Linked DNA regions of Homo sapiens: regions 2, 3 and 4 are each linked to region 1. The links come from fine-mapping of genetic effects on gene expression. A gene starts in region 1. Each other region holds a variant in brackets. All regions are shown on one strand. Distances are between the middles of the regions.

Region 1 (8,398 bases):
GAAAACCCATAGATAAAGCCACATACCTATGGCCAACAGATCTTTGGCAAAGTTAACAAAGATATACACTGTGGAAAGGACACCCTATTCAATAAATGGTGCTGGGAAAATTAGCTCGCCATAAACAGAAGAATGAAATTGGGCCCCTAATTCTTACTACATATCAAAATTAACTTAAGATGGATTAAAGACAAATATGAGACCTAAAACCATAAAAATCATAGAAGAAAACCTAGGAAAAATTCTGACATTGGCCTAGGCAAATAATTCATAACTAAGACCTCTAAAACAAATGCAACAATATCCTGTGACAATTGGAACTTTGCCCAGTTTTTAATGGGGTTATTTGTTTTGTCTTATTGACTTGTTTGAGTTCCTTATAAATTCTGGATATTAGCTCTTTTTTGAATGCACAGTTTGCAAATATTTTACTCTATTTTGTAGGTTGTCTGTTTACTCTGTTAATTATTTCTTTGCTGTGCAGAAGCTTTTTAGTTTAATTAAGTCCCATTTGTCTTAAAATGTTTTAGCAAAAATAAGAATCTAGATGTAAATCTTACACTTTTCACAAAAGTTAACTCCAAATTGTTTATAGAACTAAATGTGAAACACAAAACTATAAAACTCTGAGAAGATAACATAGGAGAAAATATAGAAGACCTTGGCAATGGTTTTTCAAATACAACAACAAGTGCACAATCCATGAAAGAACAAATCAATAATCCGAACTTTGTTAAAACAAAAAAAAAGTTTTACTCTGTAAAAGACACTATCAAGGGAGGGAGAAGTCCAGCTAAAAGAGGAATAATAGTTCCAAAAGATACAAGAATATATCTTTATAAGAATAAAACACTGTCATCCAAAATACCCAAAGAACTCTTAAAGCTCAGCAACAAAAAAGTGGACACCCTCAATAGAAACATGGGCAAAAGATTTGAACAGACACCCCACCCATGAAGATAAACAGATGTCAAATAAGCATGAAAACTGTTCAACATTACACATAATTAGGGGCCTGCAAACGAAGACAACAATGACACATACCTTTATAATAATGAACATCTAAGGCACTGATAAAACCAAATGTTGGCAAGGATTTGAAGCAATGGGAACTATTAGTTATTGCTGATATGAATGCAAAATGTCACAGACACTCTGGAAGAGAGTTTGGTGGCTTTTACAAAACTAAAATATGCTTACCATATGATCCAGCAGTTGTGCTCCTTGATATTTGCCAAATGAGTTGAAAACATATGTCCACACAAAACTTGCACAAGGACATTTATAGCATCTTTATTCATTATTGCCAAAATTGGAAGCAACCAAGATATCCTTCACTAGATGAACAGATAAACTGTGGTACATCAATGCAAGGGAATATTATTATATTACTATTTGGTGGTAAGAAGAAATGAGCTTTCAAGCCATGAGACGACATGGAGAAACCTTCTGCATATTAATAAGTGATGGAAACCTGCCTGAAAAGGCTACATACTGTGTGATTCCAACTATATAACAATCTCTTATAGTAAAGGCAAAACCATGGCAACACTAAAGTGAACTGTGGTTCACTTGTTACCAAGGACTTGCATGGAAGGGAGAGAATACGCAGAGCATGGGGGGTTTTTAGGACAGCAAATCTATTCTGTATGATGCTACGATGGTGGATATATGGCATTATACATCAGTCAAATTTATAGAATGTACAACACAAACAGTAAACCCTATGTGAACTTCGAACTTTGGTTGATGATTATGTCTTATTGTTGGCTCACTGACTGTAACTAATGAACCCCACTGATGGGGGTTGTTGATTGTGGGAAAGACTATTTGTAGGTGTGGTGAAGGGGTTTGTGGGAACTGTTGCTCGGAGCCTAAAATTGCTATAAAAATAAATTCTATTAATTAAAAAAAAACCCCGCTCTAATTCACAACCCTATCCAAGCTGAGGTGGGTGTCAATCTGTGACTGTAGAGGGCTTAATTAATGCTAATACACTCTTGATCATTTGGACTTAGGTGGGAATTCTATAGGATAGGGTATTTCACTGAACCACCAAGCAGGAAAACTGGGATTCTAATACAAAATCTTTTACTGGTGCATTGATAATGCTCTAACTCACTGAGTCACCAATTGCTCATTCCTGAAAAACAAAGCAAAATTAAATTAGTAGATCTCAGAGATCCCGTCTGTCTTTAAATTATCTATGTTCCTTTTATTCTATAAAAAGAAAGGTCAAGGCAGGAGCCTCAGCTCAGGAGAAGAAACAAGGAGCAGAGCAAGGGCAACTGTTTCTCAAGGAATAAAATTATTGCTCTAAAGAGAGAAAGTGAACTTATTTTATCCAAATAAACTAGCTTATACCTACGTGAGTGAGGCAGCAAATTACTACTTCCCTTTGCCCTGGATAAAGGGTTCACCAGGACCTGGACTCACTCACCTTTTAAAGGTTATAAAACCAAACACGTCTGACCCACATTTTACTCAACTGGTGCTAGAATTATTAACTAAATTAATGTTTATTTTGAAAGTCACTGATTAGATTAATCCACAAGTATTGAATTTTAGTCAATCTTGGTGGCCCGGTTTAACTGGATGTTTTGCTTAAAAGGAAGGCAGCAAGATGCAGGGGTTATGGTTTCCAGCCCCAGCTTGGTCACTTGCATTCTGTGTGTCCTTAGCTAAAGTACTGAATCTCCATGGTCTAACTTTCTCCTCTCTAAACTGGGAATAATTTTACAGTGGGCAAAGATAATTGAGAGAATAAAAAGAGATGTGATGAGTGTGAAAATTCTCTGTAAATTTGTCATAATGTCTATAAACATAATCGATAAAACATTGTATAACTGGGTCTTAATATTTTCTTAATGAAAGAGCTGGAAATAACTGTACTGGTCAATTTAGAATAAAGGTAATCTTTTCAGAGCATGCCTTTGTATACACACTTTGTTATTAGTGATCTAGTAATGTTCATAAATCCAGTTGTATTTAGATCTTCATGACCATTGACTATCAGTTCCCATTTCAGGTCTGCACATTGCAGTGGTTCTGTGCCCTGGGTCCATTCAGTGATTTCCCTGTGTTCCATCTTCTGTTGAATCCACAACTGTTGTTCTGTGTATAATTTCTCTTCCTTGCTGTGTATGATTACATTCTATTATTTGTAACAATAACAGACCAAAAACAATAGAAGCAGCCATGTCTGGAGGTGACTGGAAGGTGGAGAAGCCATAGATTTTCAAGCCCTGTGCCATAAATTATGTGAGATTGGCCCTTTCCTTAATAGTGCTGAACAACTTTCACTTGTGAGGTGATGCAGAGGGGAGAACTCTAATTTTTATTTCTTCTTTTGAGCGTCTCCGGTCCTCTTATCCTTATAAACAAATAACGGACTTCTATTTAATGTGAAGCCTGTTGCTTTCTGAACAGAGTCAAGGTGGCGTATCTTCAGAGTAACTAATGTCTGGGGTTTGTTTTGTTTTTCTAAAATTGTTCTTGAGCCAGCTGTGGTGTAAGTGGTAATGAACCCCAATGGGTATCAGAAGATCTCTGCTCAAATCCCGGTTTTACCGGCAATGAGCTGTGTGGCACTGACAGGTGTCCTGTTCTCCCAGAGTTTCTTTCCCAATTTGAAAAATAAAAAATGATAATCTTTATACTCCAGTCTCTTTTAATGATGAATATACATTTATATATATACTTTTATATATTTAATATAATATTTAATAGTATAAATATGTATTTATGTTATTATTATGTAATAATGTATGTAACACTCCCTGCTAATTCAGTTTGTCTCTTTGACATGTAAAGTAAATAATCACCTATTATTATAATAATGTAATAATAACACAAATATTATTATGTAATAACATATATATTTATGTATATTGTTTATATACATTTAAATATATATAAATATACATTTATTAGCTAATAATTTGATATATGTATGGTAATTCAACATGTATGAGTTATATTCACTATTTCATGTTTAGGCAGCTGTATTTTAAGTGAACTATACTAAATATTTGAAAGGCTTTTGTTATCAAGGGCTAAGTCTCCTATTTTTTGATATAGCATTACAATGTACATTTTTTATACACAAAATATAGAATACACTGATTTCCCTCAAGGTCATAAATTCCCAACTGGTCATTAATCTGAGAATATTGAATTTTGAGTATATTCTAACATAGAATCATTTACTTCAGTGTTTCTCCATCATCACAGCACATTGGAACAACCAGGGACTTTTAATTAAAAATACCTGGGCTCCAATCCAATACAATTAAACCAGAATCTCCTAGATTGGCACTGGAAAGAAGGAGTAGGACAAAAGAACATTTTATTTCTATCCATGGGCCAAAGTCCACTCAGAAAAAAAGTATAAATTGGATCTAGGTGATTGTTTACTTTACATGTCAAAGAGACACACACTAAATTAGCAGGGAGTGTTATAAAAACTTTGGAGTGCAAGCTCACAGCTGTCTTAATAAGAAGAGAAGGCTTCAATGGAACCTTTTGTGGTCCTGGTGCTGTGTCTCTCTTTTATGCTTCTCTTTTCACTCTGGAGACAGAGCTGTAGGAGAAGGAAGCTCCCTCCTGGCCCCACTCCTCTTCCTATTATTGGAAATATGCTACAGATAGATGTTAAGGACATCTGCAAATCTTTCACCAATGTAAGTCTGCCTTATGTTCCTCCAGCCAATTGCAAAGGGTAAGTTATTTGACTGCTATTTTTAGACAAAATATATTCCTGGAAGCACACTATTATAATAGATCATTGTAAAGCAAAATACTCCCTCTGAACTTCTTTGATGTTTCTTTTGTCTTCCTATTTTTTTTTTTTTTGAGACGGAGTCTCGCTCTATTGCCCAGGCTGGAGTGCAGTGGCACTATCTCCACTCACTGCAAGCTCTGCCTCCCAGGTTCACACCATTCTCCTGCCTCAGCCTCCCCCGAGTAACTGGGACTACAGGTGCCCTCCACCATGCCCGGCTAATTTTTTGTATGTTTTAGTAGAGACAGGGTTTCACCGTGTTAGCCAGAATGGTCTCAGTCTCCTGACCTCATGATCTGCCTGCCTTGGCCTCCCAAAGTGCTGGGATTACATGTGTGAGCCACCGTACCTGGCCTCTTTTGTCTTTCTAAGTCTGTCATTGTCAGAAATAGCGGAGTGAGTTGATGCATTTTGTGAATACAGAAACATTGGGGTCATTGTATTATATAATCATTTAATACAGTGGCAAAAGTTTAAAGTGCTGTTTCTCCTCTTTGTTTCACAGTGTTTTGCTATGATTTTTGACTGAAGGTGAAGGGAAGTGTGTGTGATTAGAAATTTCATCCAATAAGTTCTCTACTATAGTAGTCATGTGTTTTATTCAGAATGGTCATGAAAATTGAACTTCTCTGAAGATTCATTTGATGGCTGATGTGAAATAAATATCTGTGGGTTCAGGGCAAACATAAGTGCATGAAAGAAAGAAGTAATCAGTCAGGGCCCAATAGGTAGTTAACAGAATTCTTTTGGATTCTGAAGAAAGCCACTGTCTGTGGCCAAGGTTGCTGGAGAATGGAAGAAATTGTTCTTCCAGGAGATGCTGAATGTCCTGATTCTAACTTTGTGGTGCTTCATCGTTCCATATTGGTAATACCAGCAGTTACAAACTGGACTGGGCATTAGAATCACCTGGGGTGACACTGTAAATACAGATTTCTAGGGTTCATCACAGGACTGCTGTATCAGAATCCTCATGTTAAGAGCTTTACAAGTGACCCTGAAGTCTTTAGCTGGGTAGTGGCCTCAAGGTGGACATGGGGGATTGATTAATTGCTCAAGCATCAGTTTAAATTAGCAGAGATTCCAGTTTGGAGCTTCTACATATTACCTGTGGGACTCTGAGAATGAATCTGCAATTCTCTGGCCTCAGTTTCTTCATTTTTAAAACAGGTCAAATGAATGTGCTGAATGTGTTGAAGTGAGGATGAACTGTGTGATTTGTGTACCAATTGCCTGGGTCATTGCGTGGCACATCACAGGCCATCTATAAGTGGCAGCTATAACAATCACCATCACATTTATGTACAAAATTCAGAAATATCGAATCTATGTGTGGCAAATATGAACATTAAAAAATACAATGAAAATGTCAGTCTGAATCATACATAGTATTTGGAGCAAATAGCGACTTATTTTGCTGCTATTTGCATTTCCTTTCCCAGTTCTCAAAAGTCTATGGTCCTGTGTTCACCGTGTATTTTGGCATGAATCCCATAGTGGTGTTTCATGGATATGAGGCAGTGAAGGAAGCCCTGATTGATAATGGAGAGGAGTTTTCTGGAAGAGGCAATTCCCCAATATCTCAAAGAATTACTAAAGGACTTGGTAGGTGCACATATTTCTGTGTCAGCTTTGGTAACTGGGGTGAGGGGGATGGAAAACAGAGCCCTAAAAAGCTTCTCAGCAGAGCTTAGCCTATCTGCATGGCTGCCAAGTGTTGCAGCACTTTCTTCCTTGGCTGTGAATTCTCCCAGTTTCTGCCCCTTTTTTTATTAGGAATCATTTCCAGCAATGGAAAGAGATGGAAGGAGATCCGGCGTTTCTCCCTCACAACCTTGCGGAATTTTGGGATGGGGAAGAGGAGCATTGAGGACCGTGTTCAAGAGGAAGCTCACTGCCTTGTGGAGGAGTTGAGAAAAACCAAGGGTGGGTGACTCTACTCTGCGTCATTGACCTTAACAGTTACCTGTCTTCACTAGTGACGTCCTTGGAAACATTTCAGGGGTGGCCAGGTCTTCATTGCGCATCCTGGTTGTCAGCCCTCAGGTGGTGGAGGGAGATTTGAAGCACAGAGACAAGGGAGGTTTTGTGTATCTGTGCTTTGCCTGTATAAATGTGTTGGTTCATAGGGTGTAGGAATAAAAGGTCATTTAATCCTATTTTCTGCTCAATTTTGTTTCCTTGTTTTCAAATCAGAAATTATAAATAAGGGTCTTGAGTTCATTTTTGAAGAGTTAAAGAAGGTTTCCCCCATAGCATAAATCTGCATTACCTCCACCAGAACATTTCACCAGAGAACACTTGGAAAGTGGACATGGTGAAAGTGACCTCATCACACTTCATGAAATATGAACCAAGTTATATGTGCTTTCATTTAATTCGAGTTTTTTCATATGGTCATACTCACATGTCTGGAAATTCCTTCCAGGTCCATGCCTACAGCTCTGGCCAGCAATGACACTATGTATGGTTTTACTTGCTTAGGTATATCTCAGTACAGTTTTCATCAGTTCTTATTTCTCGGGAAACACAGTACTATTTGAAAACTGTCAGGATTAATTATTTCTTGTTAACCACTACTTACTGTAGCAATTAATATATTTTAAGTAAATATAATCTATAGTATAACTCAGCAAATACACAAACACTAATTTGTAAATAATTTGTTTAACTAGATTTTAACTATTATGAAAAACTCTTTATCCTGTCTTCTTTAAATGTAATTTGGCTATGTTTTCAGTTTTGTCATCTTTTTTCCCCTGTATTGGTTCTTAGCTTTGAAATTTGTGCTAATCATTTTTCTCCCACTGCCAATTTACTCACCTATGAAGTGCTTGTTATAATCAATCTGATTATCAGCTGGGATATAAAATTACCTTTTTAAATTCACTCTCCCAAATGCAGTAAAAAAAAAAAAACCTGGATATCAGATTGTACCTGAGAAACACACACACACACACACACACACACACACACACACTCTCTCTCTCTCTCTCTCTCTCTCTCTCTCTCTCACCAAGGCTTCCCAAATTACCTTTCACCCCCTTGGCTAAAACAACAGTTTTTCTGAAACTTTAGAGCCCTGTAATGTTTAAAGGAGTCTGGCATAGAAGCAGCTAACTCAGCAGGTTTCTTGTTGTTCAATGTTCCAACTTTATTCACAACCCTTTCATTTCGTGTCACTCTTATTTAGGACCTATAGATGTGAATTTGGGCACCCTTTCCATTTATGTTCACTAGTCACTTGGTTACAGCAATTTCATTTTAGAGATTCCTTCACCGAATAAAAGCCTTTTTAATAATTTCTTTACCTGTAAAATTACAGATTTGGCCTAACTTATGGTCAAATTTAAAACTTTATTAAAACATACTTATCTTGATGACTATACTGAATAATATCCCAGAATCCACAAGAGTAGTTTTGCCCAAATGAATTAAATTTGGAAGATGATTGGAAATGATAAACATTATTTCCAAAGGAAGGAAATTCATTTTTTACAAATTGAAAAAATAAATAAAAAGATTCCATTTATCAATTTACTTTTTGGTTAGCTTTACTGGGATTTAGATTTGAAATAAAAAGTTAGCATTTTACTTATTTAGATAAACAAATCT
Region 2 (8,398 bases), 99 kb before region 1:
GATGAAAACCACTGTCTTGTGTCAGAAACCCAAAAGGAATCATTGCTGGCATGTTAAGCTAAAGAAAAACAACCAGACAAGTGCCCAACAGTACTTAAAAAGTTATAATCCTGCAAAATTCAAAAAGGGAAATCCAAATAAGCAGCTTCTAAACTATTTTTAAACATTACAATAAAAATACCTTCCATATTGCATATATATGTGCTTATATGAATAATAGAATTAACAAAACATAGTTATTTTATAACATGTAATACATTCTTATTTTTAATTCTCTTTCATTTGTTTTAAATGCTGTGTGCAATCTACAAAAAGTTCAATAGTAATAATTAAATTATTCATTAAATTGAGCATTACTTGTAATTTAAAATGATAATCTTAAACACAATCTTATTTTTGAGATAAAAATATTTTAGCAATATACTATTAAGAGAAAAACACTGGCTATGAAAGAATTTACATAGTTTCATCCTATCTGTTTGAAAATAAAGTTTGGAAGAATACATTTGAAAAATAGTTAACATTTCCTTTTTTGTAGTACTTTGCGGCATTGTCTAAATATTGACAGTCAATACACATTATGAAGTTACATGGTTAACGTTGATTGAGTACTCACTGTGTGTGCCAGGCCCTGGGCTCAGTGCTCTGTGTGCATTTTTATTTTATTTAATCCTCTCCACAATGTGAGATAGTATAGCCAACTCATGTTACAGAGGTGAAACAGGCTCAGAGATTGAAAGTTAAATGCCTGAGGTTGCAGTCAATAAGAGGAAGAGCTGTAACTGAAACCTATGTGTGTCTGACGAGCAGTTCATGTTCTGATGGTAGGCTAGTCTGCTTAACAGAGTGTGGAATAGATGGTGCATGCATACTAGGATGGGCTAGATACCACTGTGGGTCACAAACAGTCTTAAACAATGGAGGTTGTTTTCCTGCTCATGCTGCACGTCCATCATGGCTCTCCTGGGCCCTGTGCACCACATCTTCTTATCCTGCTGCCAGGGTAAAGGAGCAGCCTCCATGTGGAACCTGTCAGGTGCTCTCGGAGATAGAGAAGAGGGTGTCCAGTCTCAATGGCTCCCAACTCTTCTGCCTCAAGGTGACATGCTTCGCTTCCACTCACTTTTGGGTCAAAGCAAATCACATGGCTACACCCAACTTAAACGGCCCACGTGGAGAAGCTGAAATACTCAGTGGACACCATTAAGGCCACCATATGGTGTTAGCCTGTGTGGGAGACTGTGGAGGGGCAGAGGAGGAGAGTAGGGGATTGGTAGGAAATGACAGCAGGACTAAGTCACCACAGATTTGCTTTATCTTCAGCCAGGTGGAGTTTGTCCCAGAGCTGCCAAAAACCGTCACTGGCAAGATTAAACGGGAACTTCAAGTTTGGTCAGATGTAGTCAGCAGTGAACTCAGAAATGACTGAATGACATTGAGTCAGTAAATCCCTGACTGCCTCAGTTACCCCACATGATAGTGGTGAGGATGGGAGCATTGAAAGAGTTGATTTGGAAGGATATCAGGAGTGTGAAAATTCCAACATTTTACTTCAAGTTAAATCCAGGCACTATCCTTCCTGCAAGTCCCCTGTTTCTTTCAGATTGCACAGGTGAGAGTGCTCAGATTAGGGCTGTAGGTTATAAAATATTGGCTCCCACATGAACAGTTCCCCTGTGTCGTGTTTGTATTCTGAGCATTTTTCTGTGCTAAACACTTCCCCAAAACATCCTGGGTCCTGATTCTTCCTCCTTGTTCTGTCAGTGCTGGGTGACGCAAGTGCCCATTTTTTGGCCAGGACACAGAAGTCTCAGAGGGATGCTCTGTGAGGCCCCAGGTGCCAGCCTCTGCCCTGCTGGAATGTGAGGCAAGGGACAGGGCATCTTCTGTGAGGGGGCAGTGGTCAGCCAGCTTGGTGACTATGCTTGCTTATCAGACCATCCCACACCTGCCACCTCTGATGAATCTACTGCCTCTGTGCCTGCCTGTACTGCTGATACAGGACTCACTCAGCTGTCCCCAGGCGTGCCCAGACTTTCATTCCTATCCAGAACCTAGGAGTCCTGCCCACTGGCCCTCCCTCATCAGCAGTAAATGATGATTTACTGCTGTTATCATCATGACTGCCTTTAGCATCTGAGAACTTTCCAGGGTGCCAGCTCTGGAAGGACAGATGCCCTTGGGAGGTGCTGACACTCAGGTACACAGGTGCTCAACAGATTTCTTCCTCCTGTCCTCAGACAGTCTTTGCATGTAGCCATTGGCACTCCCATTGTATGGAAGGAAACCAGCCCAGGGTCACACAGCTGGTCAGCAGCACAGCTGGTCTCAAATCCAAGGTGCTTGGCCTTGCCTCCATGAGGGACCTGCCTGTGAGGTTGACACTGGCTTTGGGGAGCCTTTCCTGGGCTGCATAAATAACCTACCCTGTTTGAGGCCCCAAACTCTGCTCATATTGCCCTCCTTTCCTTATGTCTACTTGGGCTATAATCAAGGTGACCCCAGCAACCCTTCACGGACATTATGGTAATCTGTGCCGTTCACTTTTGTGCAGATCTGACTTCAACCCCCTCTTGGTCTCTCCTTTTACAAGCAAGACAACTGAAACTGGGGGTCTTTATGCAGGTGACAGTATACAAATATAATTTCATTGTTTTGTTATCTGTGTTTTGTTTTTGTCATGCTTGTTTCTTAGGATTTCTTTCCATTTATGGTAAAGGCATTGGCTTTCTATTTGTAGCCTCAATGGAATATTTCCTGTTTATAATAACTTTATGTCATAATAAATGGTAAAGGGATTTAAAGAAGTGGTTTTAAGCTGCTAGAAGCCTGGGTGAGTTTGGGCACACTCTGTGCAATCAGGCAGAAGAAGGCCTTTGGGAGGTTTAGCTGAAGACAGGACCAGGAAAGGTGATGGCCAGTGGGGGTCTGTCCTGGTCACCGGGCCCCTAGGTCCTGCCCAATTGCTTGGTACTCCCCACCCATTACTCCTGGTGCTGCCTGGCCCTCTGGGTATTGTGGCCAAATCTCCCAGGAGAGAAGCTGATGAACTTCGTCACTTGAAATGCACAGATTCCTTGGTCATACCTGGGAAGTCAATCATGAGAGTCAACTTGGTTTTCCTCCCCTCATTAGGGTTCAAAATTTAAAGCCCATGGTCACAGGCAGTAAGATGACATAGATAAGTGACATCATCACCCCATTTCAGATGTTAAAATGTCTAGGTGGGTTAGAAATGATTTGGGACCACACAACCTTGTGCCACAAAGTGGAATTCCCAGGCCAGAGGGAGATGTTTTATTGCCATATTATGATTCTATCATTGAGTGCAAAGGCAGTCTTGTTTCATTTTGGGTTCTTCCTTATGTTTATATCTTACTTATAAGGGCACATTGAATTTCCAAGCATATAAGAATTTTTGGTTAGCTTTTTATCGTTGACTTCTAGCACAATTATATGATCAGAAACGTGATTTGATTCCTCTGAAATATATTGAGATTTGCTTGATGAACAAAATAAGTCAGGTTAATTTTTGTAAATGTACCATATGTGCTTAAAATGAATATATCGCCAACATTTATTCCCAAGATACAAGGGTGATGGATAGATGACTACATGAATGTGATGGAGATGGTTTACTATTTGGACCTTCTACATCCTACTGATGTTTTGTTGCTTAGTATATGAATTGCTGAGAGGGGGCTGTGGAGCCTCCCACTCTGCTTGTGTATGAGGTTCTTCCTGCCATCCTGCCATCATTTGTTTTTCATGTTTTGCAGCCAAGACTGACCATGAGGAACACTTGGAGCTCAGGAAGGAAAGATCAGCCCAGAAGCAGGGACAGGGAGCTGGTTGGGGAGGATGAGAAGTCAGAAGGTCTGCGAAGTTTCCAGAGAGGACCTGTCTTTGGGATGGCGCATCAGGGGTTCAGGTGGGGGAGGGGGTGTTGGAAGAATGTGGACATCACATGGAAT[G/A]CCCACTGTGAGGCACTATGGTACCAGGACCGAGGATTGGTGGAGAGGAAGTATAAAGCCCCAGGGTTGCTAAGGTAGCGCCCAGACAGGAGAAGGTTTGGTAGAAACCAGAGCCCTGGTCTCCCTCCAACTGCTCCTGAGCCTCCTGCTCCCCTGCCCCACTCCTCCTGCTGTTTTGCTGATAGACTTTTTCACTGACCTATAGCTGAACCTTCCACCAGCACTTGAAGACTTAGTTTTAACTGGATCCTTTCCCAGGGTTCCTTCTTTTTCTTCCTCCTCCTTCTTCTCCAGCCCCCCACCGCCCTGCTCCTCCAGGCCCCCCACAGTCCCCCTTGCCTTCCCTCCCCTCCCAATCCCTTTCCCTCCCCTCCCCCTCCCCAACTGCAGTCCCACCCCCAGTCCCCATCCCCTTTCCTCCCTTAGCCCTAAACCACCCTCACCTCTGTCCTGGCCTCCTCAGGGGGCCCTGAGAAAACCAGGACATGCGGGTCCAGTGGCTGCTGTTTTGGCTCCTCCTGCTTGGGTTTCCCAGCCATCAATCCACCCATGTGAGTATACGCTGGACCCACAGGGTTTCTTCCTTTTCATCATTGTGCTGTGTCATGCCACGTGAAATTACACAGTTCAAGCCTGTAATCCCAGCACTTTGGAGGGCTGAGGTAGGCAGATCATTTGAGTCCAGGAGTTCAAGACCAGCCTGGACATCTTTGCAAAAAATTTCATAAAAAAATTAGTTGGGCCTAGTGGCGCCTGCCTGTAGCCTCAGATACTGGAGAGACTGAGTTGAGAGAATCACTTGGGCCCAGGAGTTAGAGCCTGCAGTGAGCCCAGATCACCCCACCGCACTTCAGCCTGGGTGACAGAGTGACACCTTGTCTCAAACAAAACAAATCAAAACAAAGTGAAATGTCATTTGAGTTTTGTGCCACATGGTTTGATGAATTTCTAGGAACTTTTTTTTTTGCTGGTGATATCAATTTTATTTTTATTATTACACTGTAAGTTCTGGGTTACCTGCGCAGAATGTGCAGTTTTGTTACATAGGTATACACCTGCCATGGTGGTTTGCTGCACCCATCAACCTGTCACCTACATTAGGTATTTTTCCTAACGTTATCCCTCCCCTAGCTCCCCACCCCCCAACAGGCCCTGGGGTGTGATGTTCCCCTCCTTGTGTCAATGTGTTCTCATTGTTCAACCCCCACTTACGAGTGAGAACATGCAGTGTTTGGTTTTCTGATCTTGTGATAGTTTGCTGAGAATGATGGTTTCCAGCTTCATCCATGTCCCTGCAAAGGACATGAACTCATCCTTTTTTATGACTGCATAGTATTCCATGGTCTATATGTGCCACATTTTCTTCAGTCTATCATTGATGGGCATTTGGGTTGGTTCCAAGTCTTTGCTATTGTGAATAGTGCTGCAATAAACATACGTGTGCATGTGTCTTTATCATAGAATGATTTATAATCCTTTGGGTATATGCCCAGTAATGGGGTTGCTGGGTCAAATGGTATTTCTGGTTCTAGATCCTTGAGGAATCGCTGCACTGTCTTCCACAATGGTTGAACTAATTTACATTCCCACCAACAGTGTAAAAGTGTTCCTATTTCTCCACATCCTCTCCAGCACCTGTTGTTTCCTGATTATTTAATGATCACCATTCTAACTGGTTTGAGATGGTATCTCATTGTGGTTTTGAATTGCATTTCTCTGATGGCCAGTGATGATGAGCATTTTTTCATGTGTCTTTTGGCTGCATAAATGTCTTCTTTTGAGAAATGTCTGTTCATATCCTTTGCCAACTTTTTGATGGGGTTGTTTTTTTCTTGTAAATTTGTTTAGGTTCTTTGTAGATTCTGAATATTAGCCCTTTGTCAGATGAGTAGATTGCAAAATTTTTCTCCCATTCTGTAGGTTGCCCGTTCACTCTGGTGATATTTGCTTTTGCATAGCAAAAGCTCTTTAGTTTAATTAGATTCCATTTGTCAATTTTGGCTTTTGTTGCCATTGCTTTTGGTGTTTTAGACATGAAGTCTTTTCCCATGCCTATGTCCTGAATGGTATTGCCCAGGTTTTCTTCTAGGATTTTTATGGTCCTAGGTCTTACGTTTAAGTCTTTGATCCATCTTGAGTTGATTTTTGTAAAAGGTGTAAGGAAGGGGTCCAGTTTCAGTTTTGTGCATATGGCTAGCCAGTTTTCCCAACACCATTTATTAAATAGGGCATCCCTTCCCCATTGCTTGTGTGTGTCAGGTTTGTCAAAGATCAGATGGTTGTAGCTGTGTGGTGTTATTTCTGAGGCCTCTGTTCTGTTCCATTGGTGTATATATCTGTTTTGGTACCATGCTGTTTTGGTTACTGTAGCCTTGTAGTATAGTTTGAAGTCAGGTAGAATGATGCCTCCAGCTTTGTTCTTCTTGCCCATGATTGTGTTGGATATGCGGGCCGTTTTTTGGTTCCATATGAAGTTTAAAGTAGTTTTTTCCAGTTCTGTGAAGAAAGGCAGTGGTAGCTTGATGGGGATGGCATTGAATCTATAAATTACATTGGACAGTATGGCCATTTTCACGATATTGATTCTATCCATGAACATGGAATGTTTTTCCGTTTGTTTGTGTCCTCTCTTATTTCCTTGAGCAGTGGTTTGTAGATCTTCTTGAAGAGGTCCTTCACATCCCTTGTAAGTTGTATTCCTAAGTATTTTGTTCTCTTAGTAGCAATTGTGAATGGGAGTTGACTCATGATTTGGCTCTCTGTTTGGTGTATAGGAATGCTTGTGATTTTTGCACATTGATTTTGTTTCCTGAGACTTTGCTGAAGCTGTTTATCAGCTTAAGGAGGTTTTGGGCTGTAACGATGGGATTTTCTAAATACACAGTCATGTCATCTGCAAACAGGGACAATTTGACTTCCTCTCTTCTTATTTCAATATCCTGTATTGCTTTCTCTTGGCCGATTGCCCTGGAGAGAACTTCCAATACTATGTTGAATAGGAGTGATGAGAGAGGACATCCTTGTCTTGTGCTGATTTTCAAAGGGAATGCTTCCAGTTTTTACCCATTCTGTATGATATTGGCTGTGGGTTTGTCATAAATAACTCATATTATTTTGAGATATGTTCCATCAATACCCAGCTTATTGAGAGTTTTTAGCATGAAGTGGTGTTGAATTTTATTGAAGGCCTTTTCTGCATCTGTTGAGATAACCATGTGGTTTTTGTCATTGGTTCTGTTTTTTTTTTTTTTTTGAGGTGTGGAGTGGGAAATCAGGAGTCTCACAGCCTTCAGAGCTGAGAGCCTCGAACAGAGATTTACCCACTTATTTATTTATTTTATTTATTTGTGTATTTATTTTTTTTATTTTTTATTATTATACCATAAGTTCTAGGGTACATGTGCACAACGTGCTGGTTTGTTACATATGTATACATGTGCCATGTTGGTGTGCTGCACCCATTAACTCGTCATTTACATTAGGTATATCTTCTAATGCTATCCCTCCCCCCACCCCATGACAGGCTCTGGTGTGTGATGTACCCCATCCTGTGTCCAAGCGTTCTCATTGTTCAATTCCCACCTATGAGTGAGAACACACGGTGTTTGGTTTTCTGTCCTTGAGATAGTTTGCTCAGAATGCTGGTTTCCAGCTTCATCCATGTCCCTATAAAGGACACGAACTCATCATTTTTTATGGCTGCATAGTATTCCATGTTGTATATGTGCCACATTTTCTTAATCCATTCTATCACTGATGGGCTTGGGTTGGTTCCAATTCTTTGCTATTGTGAATAGTACTGCAATAAACATACATGTGCATGTGTCTTTATAGCAGCATGATTTATAATACTTTGGGTATATACCCAGTAATGGGATGGCTGGGTCAAATGGTATTTCTAGTTCTAGATCCTTGAGGAATCACCACACTGACTTCCACAATGGTTGAACTAGTTTACAGTCCCACCAACAGTGTAAAAGTGTTCCTATTTCTCCACATCCTCTCCAGCACCTGTTGTTTCCTGACTTTTTAATGATTGCCATTCTAACTGGTGTGAGATGGTATCTCACTGTGGTTTTGATTTGCATTTCTCTGATGGCCAGTGATGATGAGCATTTTTTCATGTGTCTTTTGGCTGCATAAACGTCTTCTTTTGAGAAGTGTCTGTTCATATGCCCACTTTTTGATGGGGTTGTTTTTTTCTTGTAAATTTGTTTAGGTTCTTTGTAGGTTCTGAATATTAGCCCTTTGTCAGATGAGTAGATTGCAAAATTTTTCTCCTATTCTTTAGGTTGCCTGTTCACTCTGATGGTAGTTTCTTTTGCTGTGCAGAAACTCTTTAATTTAATTAGATCCCATTTGTCAATTTTGGCTTTTGTTGCCATTGCTTTTGGTGTCTTAGACATGAAGTCCTTGTCCATGCC
Region 3 (8,398 bases), 60 kb before region 1:
TACTGGGGGTGTGTCCAGGATCCCAAGGTACTTTCATTGGAATGTTGAATACAGGAGTGAAACTCAACTCTGTCCTTTCATTTCAAGGCTCTCAGCCTCCATTTTAGAATCAAATCATACCAAATACTGGGCTCCCTTCAGTCATTTAAAAATAATTAGCATGGCTGCCAGCTTTACAAGACATGGGGGAGAGGCTTGCTGGGGAAAACATGTAGAATCCCCCAGTACCCACACGTTGCTGGGCATATTGGCCATGTTTGAACCAGTTTTCTTTCAGAGGACCTAGCAATTGAATGGGGCTGGAAAAAGTTCTGAAGCAACTGAGGATTTCTGGCGGAAGCTACTCCCTGGTGTTGTTCAAAGGATTTGGACTGACCTCATCCTCTGACTGCCTGACAGAGTGTCAGCAACAGGATCTCCAGCTTTCATACTATAATTTCCTCCATTCCTGTCTGCAACCACCATGTCTCCCATCCTCTCTCTCTTTGTATGCAATGCCACAGCAATTTTACAGTTCAGGGAAGTAATCTTGTTAGGTAAGATCAGGAAATGCCATAGTAACTGAAGGTGTAGCTCAAGGGAATGCCGTTGTAATTTTCTAGGAATAGAGGGTCCCTCATCACAGTGAAGTCACTCTCTGCCCTTGGTCTGGAGAGCATATGGCATTTCCAGGTAACACTCTACCCTTGTCTGGAGAGCACATGGCATTTGAAGTTCACTCTCTGCCCTTGGTATGGAGAGCACATGACATGTCATGGTCACCCTGTGCCCTTAGTCTAGAGATCACATGGCATTTCAAGGTCAACAGCGCCACCTAGTGGGATGGGAATTCTCTCCATGAAGCACATTGTTGGTCCTCTGCCAAAACACTCTAGCCTCCAAATTCTCCTCCCTTTTTGTGCCCCTCTGCTAGAGACCAGGCTTCATGCTGCTTCTGTGAACAGGAAAACTCTGCCTTCAACAACAATTAGGAGTAAAATGTCCTCCAAAGACAAAGTTGTTTAGTTTCGATACTGTCCCATCAACTAGAAAACTGCCATTTGGTCCCTATGTTCTTTTAAGGCACCTATTCTGCCTCCAATTAAAATGGTACTGAAATAGTAAGGGGATTTTTTTTCTTTTTCTTTTTTAATTAAATTAATTATACTTTAAATTCTAGGGTACATGTGCACAACGTGCAGGTTTGTTACATATGTATACATGTGCCATGTTGGTGTGCTGCACCCATTAACTCGTCATTTACATTAGGTATATTTCCTAATGCTATCCCTCTCCCCTACCCCCACCCCATGACAGGCCCCAGTGTGTGATGTTCCCCTTCCTGTTCCAAGTGTTCTCACTGTTCAATTCCCACCTATGACTGAGAACATGTGGTGTTGGGTTTTTTGTTCTTGTGATTGATAGTTTGCTGAGAATGATGGTTTCCAGCTTCATCCATGTCACTACAAAGGACATGAACTCATCCTTTTTTATGGCTGCATAGTATTCCATGGTGTCTATGTGCCACATTTTCTTACTCCAGTCTATCATTGATGGACATTTGGGTTTGTTCCAAGTCTTTGCTATTGTAAATATACGTGTGCATGTGCCTTTATAGCAGCATAATTTATAATCCTTTGGGTATACGCCCAGTAGTGGAATGGCTGGGTCAAATGATATTTCTAGTTCTAGATCCTTTCTGCACAGCAAAAGAAACTACCATCAGAGTGAACAGGCAACCTACAGAATGGGAGAAAATTTTTGCAACCCTCTTGTCTGACAAAGGGCTAATATCCAGGATCTACAGAGAACTCAAACAAATTTACAAGAAAAAAAACAAACAACCCCATCAACAAGTGGGCAAAGGATACGAACAGACACTTCTCAAAAGAAGACATTTATGCAGCCAACAGACACATGAAAAAATGCTCATCATCACTGGCCATCAGAGAAATGCAAACCAAAACCACAGTGAGATACCATCTCACACCAGTTAGAATGGCAATCAGCAAGGGGATTTCAAGTTTGGAAGTTAATTGGAACCATTCTCTAAGGGTAAACGCTTTAACATGGGCCATAATAAGCAGGATATAGAGTTCAATCTAGCATGCACTATCCATTAAAGGAGCCTTGCTCAAATGCAAATATTATAGTTTTTCCCAAGATCCATCCTTCTAGGAGCCACAGAGGCCACATAAGTCTAGGAAGTCAAAGGGAAATCACAAGTGGAGGACTAGAGTCACATGGGTAAGCATGACTAATCTCAATTGCTTAGTTCCTCTGGTCCTGTATTTTTAAATGGCTGCAGGGTTGCAAGAATGCAGCCATGGGCAGCACATTAAATAAGGTGCTGGTACTCAGGAGCCAAGGAGGGAAATCAGTAGGTGGAGCATGCCACCACTGTCTTCCCCTCCACCCTAGGTCACACCAATAGGAAGGAGACTAAAGGGACATCTTTTTCATGCTTCCATTTCTAGATGAGTAACAGATCATCTTCGGCCTGTAGTCCTCTGGAGTGCATTTGAAAACACTGGGACTCTTTTTACCCTGAGATATGAAGAAAAGTGGCTTTTTTTTTCCCACAAAGGTGTGGCCTTCTTACCCACTTGAAACAGCCTAAACTGTGGAAGGAAGCTTTAATTTAAATTGTGTCCAAGAATTAGATCTTTTCTCCATATGGGAGGGAAAATGGCCCAAGGTCCATTATATACAAGATTTCTTTGCCCTATGAGAAAACCCAGACCTTTGCAAGCATTGCACAATTCACCCAGCCCTTCTAGCAATCATATCAGGAAGGCCCAAAGGGAATGATTCCCCAAGACTAGAAAAGCAACTTCCAGAGTGTATTAGTCTGTTTTTCACACTGCTGATAAAGATGATATACCCAAGACTAGGCAATTTACAAAAGAAAGAAAGAGGTTTAATTGGACTCACAGTTTCACATGGCTTGGGAGACCTCACAATCATGGTGGAAGGCAAGGAGGAGCAAGTCATATCTTACATGGATGGTGTCAGGCAAAGAGAAGAACATGTGCAGGGAAATTCCTCTTTTTAAAACTATCAGATCTCATGACACTTATTCACTATGACAAGAACAGCACAGGAACAACCTGCCCCCATGATTCAATTACCTCCCAGCAGGTCCCTCCCACAATACATGTGAATTCAAGATGAAATTTGTGTGGGGACACAGCCGAACCATATAATTCCACCACTGGTCCCTCCCAAATCTCCTGTCCTAACATTTCAAAACCAATGATGCCTTCCCAACAGTCCCCCAGAGTCTTAACTCATTTTAACATTAACTCAAAAGTACATAGTCCAAAGTCTGAAGTCTCATCTAAAACAAGGCAAGTCCCTTCTGCCTATGAGCCTGTAAAATTGAAAGCAAGTTAGTTACTTCCTAGATACAATGGGGGTACAGGCATTTCATAAATACAGCCATTCCAAATGGGAAACATTGACCTAAACAAATGGGCTTCAGGCTGCGGGGAAGTCTGAAGTCCAGTGGGGCAATCAAATCTTAAAGCTTCAAAATGATCTCCTTTGACTCCATGTCTCACATCCAGGTCACACTGATGCAAGAAGTGGGTTCACAAGATCTTGGTCAGCTCCACCCATGTGTCTTTGCAGAGTAAAGCCTCCTTTCTGGCTGCCTTAATTGGCTGAAGTTGAGTGACCATGAATTTTCCAGGTGC[A/G]TGGTGCAAGCTGTTGGTGAATCTACCACTCTAGGGTCTGAAGGACAGTGGCCCTCTTCTCACAGCTCCACTAGGCAGTGCCCCAGTAGGGATACTGTTTGGGGGCTCCAACCCTACATTTGTCTTCTGCACTGCCCTAGCAGAGGTTCTCCATGACAGCCCCATCTCTGCAGCAAACTTCTGCCTGGACATCCAAGCATTTCCATACATCTTCTGAAATTTAGGTGGAGGTTCCCAAACTCCAGTTCTTGACTTCTGTGCACTGGCAGGCTCAACATAATGTGGACAAGGCTTGAGGCTTACACCCTCTGAAGCCACAGCTTGAGTTCTTTATTGGTCCCATTCAGCCATGGCTGTAGTGGCCAGGATGCAGGGCACCAGTCCCTAAGCTGCATAAAGCATGGGGACCTCAAGCCCAGCCCACAAAACCACTTTTTCTTTGTAGGACTCTGGACTTGTGTCAAGAAGGGCTGCTGTGAAGGCCTCTGAAATGCTCTAGAGACATTTTCCCCATTGTTTTGGGGATTAACTTTTGACTTCTCATTACTTATGTAAATTTATGCTGCTGGATTGGATTTCTCCTCAGAAAATAGGATTTTCTTTTCTATTGCATTGTCAGGCTACAAATTTTCTGAACTTTTATGCTCTATTTCCCTTTTAAAACTTAATGCCTTTAACAGCACCCAAGTCACCTCTTGAATGCTTTGCTGCTTAGAAATTTCTTTTGCCAGATAACTTAAATTCTCTCTCTCAGGTTCAAAGTTTCATGAATATCTAGGGTAGAGGCAAAAAGCTGCCAGTCTCTTTGCTAAAACATAACAAGAGTCACCTTTGTTCCAGTTCCCAAGAAGTTTATCTCCATCTGAGACTACCTCAGCCTGGGCCTTATTGTTCATATCACTATCAGCATTTTTGTTAAAGCCATTCAACAAGTCTCTGGAAGGTTTCAAACTTTCCCACATTTTCCTGTCTTCTTCTGAGTCCTCCAAACTGTTCTAACCTCTGCCTGTTACCCAGTTTCAAAGTTGCTTTCACATTTTGGGGTATCTTTTCTGTAGTGCCCCACTCTACTGGTACTAATTTACTGAATTAGTCCATTTTCACACTGCTGATAAAGACATACTTGAGACTGGGAAGAAAAAGAGATTTTAATGGAATTACAGTTCCACGTGGTGGGGGAGGCCTCACAATCATGGAAGAAGGCTAGGAGGAGCAACAGGCCAAAAAGGCTTGTGCAGAGAAACTCCCATTTTTAAAACCATCAGATCTCGTGAGACTTATTCACTATCACAAGAACAGCACAGGAAACACCTGACCCTATGATTCAATTACCTTTCACCAGGTCCCTCTCATAACACCTGGGAATTCAGGATGAGATTTGGGTGGGGACACAGCCAAACCATATCATGGAGAAATCATCTATTGAGTGTTACAGCCCTTCCAATCCCCCTTACCTGGGGCAACCTCCCACTGCACCACCAGGTGCTCTACCCCCACCACCTTAAAAACTCCCCATTTCTGCACCTTCACACTTATGCCTACAGGTAATGCCCAACAGAGGTGATGCCACAAGGGTTCAAGCTCCCTTCTTATTGCAGGACCTTAGGCAAATAAAGGGAGACTTAGGCAGATTTTTTATGACACTGTTAGGTATATAGAAGCTTTCCAAAACCTAACTCAGGTGTTTGACCTCTTGTGGAGGGATGTTATGCTGCTCCTAATCCAAACCCTAACCACAGTGAAAAGCAGGAAGCTCTGCAGGCAACAGAGAAATTACGAGATGAGCAGTATGTCTTCTATAGTAGGCCAAAAAGGAAAAGAGAAAATAAATAGGGAAGGTGAAGAAATAGGGGAAAAGCCATTCCCAATAAGAAGAGGGGCAATACCTCTTGACAACCTTAATTGGAACTTCAGTGACACCACAGATGAATGAAAAAGAAAACAGTTTCTAATGTGCATATTGGAGGGCCTAGAAAGAATTAGGGCCAAAGATCTTAATTACTCCAAACTGTCTATGATAGACCAAAAGCCAGATGAGAATCCCACAGCCTTTATGGAAAGACAGACAGGCACTAATAAAACACACCTCCTTATTCCCCAATTCAGTTGAGGGACAGCTCATCCTGAAGGACAAGTTTATTACACAGGAAGATCCTGATATTAGAAGGAAACTACAGAGGCAGGTTATAGGACCAGATAGCACCTTGAAGAACCTCCTGAGGGTGGCCACCATTGTCTTTTATTATAGGGACCAGAAGGAGGTCCAGGAGAAAGAGAGGAAGTAAAAGAGAAGAACAGAGGCTCTAGTAACTGCTTTGCAAACTTGCAAAGTCCAGAATCCCTGAGGTGCATCCATTAGTTGCTATCAGTGCAGCAAGTCAGGGCACTTTAAGGAGTGCCCAGGCAGCAAGAAGAAACCACCATGACCCTGTCCAGAATGTGATGGGGATCACTGGAAATTGGATTGTCCCTGGAGATAAAGGTCACTGGGTTCAGAACCAATCTCACAGGTGATCCAACTGGGCTGATATGTCCTGGGGCTCAAACCTCTGGCTCCAGGAGCTCAAATGCCACTACAGCACAGGAGCCCCAGGTGATTCTGGAAATTGAAGGAAGAAAGGTAGACCTCCTTCTGGACACTACAGCAAGCCTCTCTCTTCTTCTTTCTAATCCAGGCCTCCCATCTTCCCATAACTGTGAGGGGCACCTCAGAAAAAACTCTAATCTGTTATTTTTCTTAACCCCTTAGTTGCAGTTGGGGGGAACCTATTAGTTACACATGCCTTTTCAATCACACCTGAAAGTCCCACTCCTTTATTAGGTAGAGACATTTTGGTTCACATGGGGGACAAACTCTTTGTCTCCCCCTGGTAGAAGCTAATATCAATCCAGAAGTGTGAGCAACAAGGAAGAGTAGGTTGAGCAGTAACCACTAGGCCAGTCCAGATCCATCTTAATGATCCCACTTATTTTCCCAACCAAAGACAATACCCCCTAAAGCCAGAGGCTAGGAAAGGGCTAGAAGCCATTATTAAAAACCTGAAGATGCAGGACCTTTTCAAACACTGTAACAGCCCCTGCAACACCCCAATATTAGGAAGGCAAAATCCCAATGGGGAATGGAGACTACTTCAGGACCTCTGCCTCATTAATGAGGTGGTAGTCCCAATTTATCCAGTAATACCTATTCCCTAATACTGTGCTGACCCAAATACCTCAGGGAACTAAATGATTTGCAGTCCTAGGTTTAAAGGATGCCTTTTCTGTATACCATCACATCCTGACTCTCAATACCTGCTTGTCTTTGAAGATCCCTCTGGCCAAATTGCCCAGTTAACATGGATAGCGCTGCTTAGGGATTTTGAGACAATCCTCTTTTGTTTGGACAGGCTCTATCAAAAGACCTCTCTGAGGTTTTCCATCCTCAGGTCAGGGTCTTGCAATATGTGGATGATATACCACTCTGTGCCCCACCTGAGGAAGCTTCCCAGGAAAGCACTGAAGTTCTTAATTTATTAACTAACAGAAGATATAAGGTTTCAAAATATAAGGCCCAGCTTTGCAAAATCTCAGTGAAGTACTTGGATGTAGTTCTGTCTGAAGGGACCAGAGCATTAGGGGAAGAAAGGATTAAGCCCATTTTTTCCTTTTCCCTCCTCAAAACCCTAAAGCAACTAAGAAGATTTTTGGGCATTACAGGATTTTGCAGGCTATGGATACCTGGGTATGGTGAGATAGCTTATCCTCTATATCACCTCATAAAGAAACTCAAGTGGCTAAAACTCCTCTCTTAATCTGGGAACCTGAAGCTCAAAAGGCCTTTAACCAGTTACAACAAGGCTTGCTTAAGGCACCAACCCTCAGTCTTTTCATAGGGCCTTCAATCTGTATGTATCAGAAAGGAAGGGAATGGCCCTGGGAGTTTTAATGCATGCCTGAGGACAGCTCAACAGCCAGAGATTTATCTGAGTGAGAAATTTAATTTGGTGGCTAAAGGATAGCCAGCATGCCTCTGAGATATTGCCATGGTGGCCCTACTGGTCCCAGAAGCCTCCAAATTAATCCTGGGAAAGGATTTAACTGTTTACACCCCACATAATGTGGCAGGATTACTCTCCTCCAGGGAACATTTAGCTAACAGATAGCCAGCTCCTTAAATATCAAGCTGTCTTGTTAGAGGGTTCCACCATCCAGGTAAAAACTTGCTCTTGCCTAAACCCAGCCACTTTTCTCCCTGAGGAAACAGGGAAACCTGAGCATGACTTAAACAGGTTGTGGTACAGACCTATGCAGCCAGGGAGGATCTCAGAGAAACTTTCCTAGAAAATCCAGACCGGACCCTCTTTATGGATGGAAACTCCTTTGTGGAGCAAGGAGTCCATAAGGTGGGATATGCAATAATCACTCTGAATTATGCAATTGAAAGTGCATCTCTTGCTTCAGGCCTAAGCACTCAACTAGTTGAACTGAAAGCCCTTATAAGAGCACTTGAATTAAGTAAGGGAAAGGTAGCTAACATTTACACTCACATCAAGTATGCTTTCTTAGTTATCCATCATGCTCATGCTGCCATTTGGAAGGAAGGACACTTTTGTACTGCCAATAGATCCCCTATAAAATACCAACAGGAAATTAACAGTTTTCCTTCCACAAGAGTTTGCAGAGATGCATTGTAAGGGACATAAGAAAGGAGTAGATAAAATACCCAGTGGAAACATGTT
Region 4 (8,398 bases), 51 kb before region 1:
TTTATTTAACTCAGAAGATTTGGTGTTGGTAAAAGCTCTCCCTTCCCTCTCTACTTCCCTATGCCTAATCTAGGAAGGGCCCTGAATTGCTCTTCTTTCAATCCCCTCCACAGTAGAAGTTACAGATATCAGCTCCTGGATACATCATACTAAAGTCAAAGCCTGGAAAACCAAGAGAGCAACCCCTGACAACCTAGAGGAATGTCCTGGAGATTAATGTGAAGAACTAGGAGATTTCAAGCTGAAAATCATAAAAGATAAGTAAATGAGTAAGGGCTACTCATCCTACTTAGTCCCATGTTTACCTTACCAGATACATTTAGTCATTTCTACTTTTCCTCTTGAGAGTCACTACCAGGTTTTAAAACATATTTTGATGCATACTTGCAGGGAGATTTTTAATTATTCATGAAATTGCATTTGTAACTTCATAGACACCCAAAGGGAAATGTTATGTCTTGGTGAGTAAAATTTTAAATGTAAATTATCTACTACACCACACTTTCAGGAATTGCTGTACTTGCTCTACTATTTGCAGTGTGACTATATACTGTAGCACCTTCTAACTAGAAAATCAGACAGTTTCTATTGTTGTAGTATTTTGCTTAATTATTATCCTTATAGCAGAGATAATATTTACCAACAAAAAGGAAGCACAAAACTTTTACTATCACTGAGTCTGCTAGAATTTTTTATTGAGTTTGGCCACCATAGCTATGCAAAGAAGGTTATAAAGGAAAGAGATTTTATATAAGAAAGGATATTTTAGGGGAGGTAAATTCTTGTCCTAAAGAGAATAACTGATTGTTTAAAAAGCGGCATGTTTAGGACAAGTGAGAAAGTTTAAGCATTTTCTAGATGGTATGTGGAAGTCTTGAAAGAATTAATAATTGCAGGAGAGATTTAGCCAAGGTTAACACTAAAGTTACTCTAGCCACAGAATAATGTATTTCTCCCAATCATATCACAAATTATAAAAGATGACCTAGACCTAAAATTATTCCTTAATGGCAAGTCAAGCAGGGAATATAAGTTTTTCTCAAAAAAAAATTGTTGCTTTCATATTAAACTCTCAATTGGGAGAGAAGCCCACACTTTTAGAGCAGTGAGAGGGAGCATGGCTGCAATCATGAGGAAATACAGAGAAGCCATGTGGCCAAGCAAGAATCTGCCTACTGACGATCACACTTCAGTTCCATCAAGGGGTCACAGTCCAAAACTTCAACACCAAAAATACTTTGCTAAAATACCCCCTGTGAATCCAAGGACAAATTTTCAGCTGCAAATAAGACTCTGCACAAAGCATTGGCCCTGTTAAAACATTCAGAAAAGAAGTCTACTGACTGTGCTCAATTTACACTGCAGTTAAAGGAATACCAGCCCACACAGATGAGAAAGAACCAGAGTTTCCAAAAACTCTGGAAATTCAAAAAGCCAGAGTATCTTTTTTTTCTCCAAACAACCACACTAATTCTCAGCAAGGGTTCTTAACCAGGCTGAAATGGCTGAATTGACACATATACAATTTATAATATGGATAGGAATAAACATCATTGAGATTCAGGATACAGTCAACACCCAATCCAAAGAATATAAGGATTACAATAAAATAATACAGAAACTGATGGACAAAATATCCACTATAAAAAAAAGAACCAACATGATCTGATAGAGCTGAGATATACACACAAAAATTTCATAATGCAACCACAAGTATTAACAGGAAGCATAAGGGAGCTTCTGTGGTCCTGGGATTATTTTTTTCTTGGCCTGTTTGTTGGCTAAACAGATATATTTGCTTTGCGATAATTCATTGAGCCATATATTTAGGACATATGCAACAATCTCTATGTATTTTATTCTTCAATGGAAATGGTTATTTAAAAATAAACAACTTGACAGGGGGTGGAGCCAAGATGTCCAAATAGAAACAATGGCAGTCAGAGGCTCCCAACCAGAAGAATAAAAACAGCATGAGAATCTTGCATCAGCAACCAAGGTATCCAGGTTCTATCATCAGAATTGACTAAGCAGTTGGCATCACCCATGGAGAGCCAGGAAAAGCAGGGTGGTGGGTTGCCCCACCTGAGAGCTACATGGGGCAAGGAGAACCCCAACTCCCAACGAAGGGAAGTGGTGAGTGAGCAAGCTACCCAGCCTGTGAAACAGTGCTTTTTCCATTGGTCTGTATAACCCACAGTTCAGAAGACCCCACTTGTGATCCCACACTACCAGGGCCTTGGGTCTCAACCATAGAACTACACAGATTCTCAACAGCAACTCAGCTGGAATCTGCCTAAGATTACCAAGTTCCCAGAAGGAGGGGCAGCCATCATCACTGCAGCTCCCTGTTGTCTAAGCCATTTGAACTCCCTGGGGGAGGGGTGGCAGCCATCAATGCAGCTACTGCCTGCCTAAGAAAACTGAACTCCCTGGGGGAGACATGGCAGCCACCACTGTGGCTGCTAGCTGCCTAAGACACTGAACTCCTTGCGGGGGATTGCAGCAACCATCACTATAGCTCAGGCCATGTTTTTTTCCTGCTGGAGCTGAGGAGACTGGCTTGGTTCCAAAAAGTATTTCCTCACAATGAAGCACACCAGCTGTGCAAACCTTATCCAGACTGCCTTTTTAGGCTGGACCCTGACCCATCCCTCCTCAGTGGGCAGGGCTTCCCTGTAGGAACTCCAGCAACTACAGCCAGGGGCTTACGGACATAGCTCTGATATCCCTGGGCCTGAGTCTCTAAAGGGAGTGGTGGCTATGGTCTCCACAGACCAGTATATTTATTCTTTCCCCCTCCTAGCTCTGAAGAATCTGCATGAGATGAGAATGAACCAGCCCAGATGAATAGGTTTTCCCACAGCACAGCACACCCCCTCCACAAAGGGACAATCAAAGTGCTTCATTAAGCAGGTCCTGGTTCCCATTCACCCCAACTGGCTGAGACACCACAACAGGGGTCACCAGACATCCTATACTGGAGTGTGTCTACTGACATCAGGTTGATGCCCCTTGATGTCAGACATACCAGAGGAAGGAATAGGCACCCATCTTTGCTGTTCTCCAGCCTCCTTGTGTCACATCACCATGTGCTGGAGAGACCCAGATGAATATGGCAGGAAATGGACCCCCAGCAAACTGCTGCAGGCTTATAGAAAAGGGACCTAACTATCGAAAGAAAAACAAACAGAAAGCAACAACAACAGCATCAACAAAAAAGTCCCCACAAAAAC[C/A]TCATCCAAAGATCAGCAGCCTCAAAGATCAAAACTGGACAAACTCATGAACATGAGAAAGAATCAATGAAAAAATGCTGAAAACTCAAAAAGCCAGAGTGCCTCTTCTCCAAATGATTGAAACACCTCCCCAGCAAAGGCACAGATCTGGACAGGGGTTGAGATGGACAAATTGACAGAAGTAGGCTTTAGAAGGTGGGTGGTAACAAACTTTACTGAGGTAAAGGAGCATGTTCTAAGCCGATGCAAAGAAGCTAAGAAACATAATAAAAGGTTATAGGAGCTGTTAACTAGAATAACCAGTTTAGAGAGAAAGATAAATGACCTGATGGAGCTGAAAAATAAAGCGCAAGAACTTCATAATGCAAAAACAAGTATCAATAGCTGAATTGATCAAATGGAAGAAAAAATATCAGAGCTTGAAGACTATCTTGCTGAATTAAGGCAGACAGACAAGATTAGAGAAAAAAGAATGAAAAGGAATGAACAAAACCTCCAAGAACTATGAGACTATGTAAAAAGACTGAACCTACAACTGATTGGAGTACCTAAAAGAGACGGGGCGAATGGAACCAAGTTAAAAAACACACTTCAGGATATCATCCAGGAGAACCTCCCCAACCTATCAAGAGAGGTAAACATTCAAATTCAGGAAATACAGGGGACCACAGTAAGATACTCCATGAGAAGATCAGCCCCAAGACACATAATTATCAGACTTTCCAAGATTGAAATGAAGGAAAAAATGTTAAGTGCAGCCAGAGAGAAAGGCCAGGTCACCTACAAAGGAAAGCCCATCAGACTAATAGTGGGCATCTCAGCAGAAACCCTACAAGCCAGAAGAGAGTGGCAGCTAAAATGCAACATTCTTAAAGAAAAGAATTTTCAACCAAGAATTTCATATCCAGTCAAACTAAGCTTTATAAGCAAAGGAGAAATAAAATCCTCTTCAGACAGCAAATGCTGAGGGAATTTATCACCACCAGGCTTACCTTGCAAGAGCTCCTGAAGGAAGCACTAAACATGGAAAGAAAAAATTGGTACCAGCCACTACAAAAACACACTGAAATACAAAGACCAATTACACTATAAAAAAACTGCATTAACTAGTGTGCAAAATAACCAGCTAGAATCATGATAGGATCAAATTCACACATAACAATATTAACTTTAAATGTAAATGGGCTAAATGCTCCAATTAAAAGACACAGACTGGCAAATTGGATAGGGTCAAGACTCATTGGTGTGCTGTATTCAAGAGACCCATCTCACATGCAAAAACACACACAGGCTCAAAATAAAATGATGGAGAAAAATTTACAAAGCAAATGGAAAGCAGAAAAAAGAGCAAGGGTTGCAATCCTAGTTTCTGACAAAACAGACTTTAAACCAATGAAGAAAAAAAGACAAAGGGCATTACATAATTGTAATAGATTAATTCAACAAGAAAACATAATTATCCTAAATATATATGCACCTGATACAGGAGCAACCAGATTCACAAAACAAGTTCTTAGAGACCCACAAAGAGGCTTAGATTCCCATACAATAAAAGTGGGAGACTTTAATACCCTGCTGTCAATATTAGACAGATTGAGACAGAAAATTAATGATATTTAGGACTTGAACTGAGCTCTGGAAGCTCTGGATCAAGTGGGCCTGATAGGTGTCTACAGAACTCTCCACCCCAAGACAACAGAATATACATTGTTCTCAGTGTCACATGGCACTTACTCTAAAATTGATCATATAATTGGAAGTAAAACACTCCTCAGCAAATGCAAAAGAACTGAAATTCTAACAGTTTCTCAGACCACAGTGCAATCGAATTAGTACTCAAGACCATACAACTACATGGAAATTGAACAACATAATCCTCAGACTCAGCCCAAAAGCTCCTTAAACTGATAAGCAACTTCAGCAAAGTCTCATTATACAAAATCAACGTGCAAAAATCACAAGCATTCCCATACACCAACAGTAGACAAGCAGAGCAACAAATCATGAATGAACTGTCATTCACAATTACTACAGAGAGAATAAAATACCTAGGAATAGAGCTAAAAGGGTATGTGAAGTGCCTCTTCAAGGAGAACTACAAACCACTGCTCAAGGAAATAAGATAGGAAACATAGAAACAGAAAAACACTTCATTTTCATGGATCGGAAGAATTAATGTCATGAAAATGGCCATACTGCTCAAAATGATTTATAGATTTAATGCTATTCCCATCAAACTATTATTGACATTCTTCACAAAATTAGAAAAATCGAATTTAAAATTCATATGGAACCAAAAAAGAGCCTGTATAACCAAGACAATCCTAAACAAAAAGAACAAAGCTGAAGGCATCACACTACCTGACTTCAAACTATATTACAAGGCTATATTAACCAAAACAGCATGGCACTGGTACCAAAACAGACATATAGACCAATGGAACAGAATAGAGATCTCAGAAATAAGACCACACATCTACAACCATCTGATCTTCAACAAACCTGACAAAAGCAAGCAAAGGGTAAAGTATTCCATATTTAATAAATGGTGCTGAGAGAACTGGCTAGCTATATGCAGAAAATTGAAATTGGATTCCATTTTTAGACCCTGTACAAAAATTAACTCAAGATGGATTAAAGACTTAAATGTAAAACCCAAAACTATAAAAACCCTAGAAAAAAATTTAGGTAACACCATTCAGGACATAGGCATGGAGAAACATTTTATAATGCAATGACCGAAAGCAATTGCAACAAAAGCAAAAATTGACAAATAGAATCTAATGAAAGTAAAGAGCTTCTGCACAGCAAAAGGCAACATACAGTATGGGAGAAAATTTTTGCAATATACCCATCTGACAAAGGTCTAATATCCAGAATTTACAAGGAACTTAAACAAATTTGTAAGAAAAAAAACCCATGCAAAAGTGGGCAAAGGACATAAACAGACATTTCCTAAAAGAAGACATTTATGCAACCAACAAACATATGAAAAAAAGCTCAACATCAGTGATCATTAGAGAAATACAAATCAAAACCACAATGAGATACCACCTCATGCCACTCATATCAAGTCAAGAAACAAAGATGCTGGTGAGGCTGTGGAGAAATAGGAATGCTTTTACACTGTTGATGGGAAGGTAAATTAGTTCAACTATTGTGGAAGACAGTGTGGCAATTCCTCAAGGATCTAGAACCACAAGTACCATTTGACCCAGCAATCCCATTACTGGGCACATACCCAAAGGAATATAAATCATTCTATTATAAAGACACATGCACACATATGTTTACTGCAGCACTATTCACAATAGCAAATATATGGAATCAACCCAAATGCCCATCAAAGATAGGGTGGATAAATAAAATGTGGTACATATATATCATGGAATACTATGCAGCCATAAAAAGCAAAGAGATCATGTCCTTTGCAGGGACATGCATGAAGCTGGAAGCCATTATCCTCAGCACACTAACACAGGAACAGAAAAACAAACACACATGTTCTCACTCATAAGTGGGAGCAGAACAATGTGAACATATGGATGCAGAGAAGTGAAAAACACACACTGAAGCCTGTCAGGGGCGGTGGGGAGAGGGAGAGTATCAGAATAAAACTAATGTATGTGGGGCTTAATACATAGGTTATGGGTTCATATGTGCAGTAAACCACTATGGCACATGTTTACCCAGATGTAACACACCTGGACGTTCTGCACATGTATCCTGGAACTTAAAATAAAATTTAAACCAAAAAAAAACCTCTTGTCAAGCAAGGTTTATGATTCTTTTTGTGGAGCACTTCATGCTGATGACATCTTGTCCATTCATTTAGGCAATGATGGAAAATCTTATTGATGTGAAAAGTCACTGAACAGGGAATTGGAAACCTGGATTTGAAAAAAATGTCTTCTTCTCATTCATAGGTAACGCATCACCTCACTGAGCCATGAGTTCCTTACTCTTAACGATAAAGTAGGGAATTAGAAGAGTGGGTTGCTGAGGTTCCTTCTATCTTTAATTATCTGTAATTCTCTCATTTTATAAAATGATACAGGTGGGAGTCTTATGATAGGAAGGAAGAGGAGAGTAGAGACCTGCATCTCTTAGGGAATAAAGCAGATGATCTAAAGACAGCCAGTGTTCATTTTAACCATAATAAAGGAGTGTGTTTCTTTCAGAGTTTAGAGCAATGTGAATCAGGCATCAAATTGCGGCTTATCTTTGTTCTAGTATAAAAAGTTCACTAAGACCTGGGTTCATGCAAGTTCAAAAGGTTACAAAATCAAACTTTCTTGACCCCCTTTTTAATCAACTGGTGCTGCAATGATTAACTCAATGTTTATTTTGAAAGTCACTGATTAGAGGAAATAATGAAATGGTGTATCACAGTACACATTCATGAATGTTGAACTGAATAATTTGCTTAGAGAGAAGTTTTTGAGGTGCAAAGGTTATGGGTACTAGCCTCTGCTCTACAACTTGCAGACACCATGTTCTTGGCGCAGATGATAAGTCCCTGAGTCTTGATATCCTCATCTTTAAAATGGGGATGATTTTACCATAGGTGAAGATAATTGAGAGAATCAAAAGTGATATAATGGGAGTGAACATTCTCTGTGAATTATCAGAGTCCCTGAAAACCTGAGGGTTAAACATTGTGTAAGTGGAGTCTTGACAAAAACTCAATTTTTCCTTATAAAACAGCTTAGAATAATTATGCTGACCAATTTAAAATAAATATGATAAAAAATTAAAATAAATATGTTAATATCTCTACAGTACATACCTTTGCACAAGCATTGCATTAGTTATCTAGCAATGTATATCATCCTAATGATACATAGGTCCTTATGCTCACTGAATTCCATCTCCCATTCAGGTTTGTATATTGTGGTCCTTATGTGCTATAAGTTTGTTTAATAAAGTCTCCTCTAAGAATAGACCACATGTTATGTACCAAAACAAGTCTTAAAATGTTCAAAAAATTGAAAAAATAAGCATCTTCTCTGACCACAACGGAATAAAACTAGAAATTAATAACGAGGAATTTAGAAAACTATACAAATACATGTAAATTAGACAATATGCTCCCGAATGACCAGTGGGTCAATGAGCAAATTAAGGAGGAAATTCAAAAATTTTTTGAAGGAAATGTTATT

Alleles and levels. Positions count from the first base shown, and alleles are read on the strand shown. Sizes are in standard deviations (SD) of each study's normalised expression. Not every link is listed here.
For the expression in testis of the gene that starts at base 4,420 in region 1, allele A in region 2 goes with a lower level than allele G (moderate effect, 0.59 SD a copy in GTEx).

Evidence for each region. PIP is the estimated chance that this variant, and not a neighbour inherited with it, causes the effect.
Region 2: its variant is fine-mapped to the expression of CYP2C8 in testis (GTEx, PIP above 0.99).
Region 3: its variant is fine-mapped to the expression of CYP2C8 in whole blood (TOPMed, PIP above 0.99).
Region 4: its variant is fine-mapped to the expression of CYP2C8 in testis (GTEx, PIP above 0.99).

The regions. Positions count from the first base shown.
Region 1 is chr10:95,065,519-95,073,916 of GRCh38, reverse strand. CYP2C8 (cytochrome P450 family 2 subfamily C member 8) reads left to right here and starts at 4,420. Exons shown (of 9, transcript NM_000770.3): 1 at 4,420-4,682; 2 at 6,226-6,388; 3 at 6,560-6,709. The coding sequence starts at 4,515. RefSeq lists a cis regulatory region at 2,585-2,605 and a promoter at 1,548-4,515.
Region 2 is chr10:95,164,508-95,172,905 of GRCh38, reverse strand. It overlaps LOC107984257 (a long non-coding RNA gene), which reads left to right. Exons shown (of 10, transcript XR_007062253.1): 4 at 1-2,625; 5 at 3,780-3,876; 6 at 4,438-4,525. Among named protein-coding and RNA genes, the nearest start is that of ACSM6, 26 kb to the left of the region's middle. The variant G/A (reference allele first, on the strand shown) is at 3,975.
Region 3 is chr10:95,125,527-95,133,924 of GRCh38, reverse strand. LOC107984257 (a long non-coding RNA gene) reads left to right here. Exons shown (of 10, transcript XR_007062253.1): 7 at 1-8,398. Among named protein-coding and RNA genes, the nearest start is that of CYP2C8, 60 kb to the right of the region's middle. The variant A/G (reference allele first, on the strand shown) is at 3,678.
Region 4 is chr10:95,116,282-95,124,679 of GRCh38, reverse strand. LOC107984257 (a long non-coding RNA gene) reads left to right here. Exons shown (of 10, transcript XR_007062253.1): 7 at 1-461; 8 at 7,072-7,162. Among named protein-coding and RNA genes, the nearest start is that of CYP2C8, 51 kb to the right of the region's middle. The variant C/A (reference allele first, on the strand shown) is at 3,237.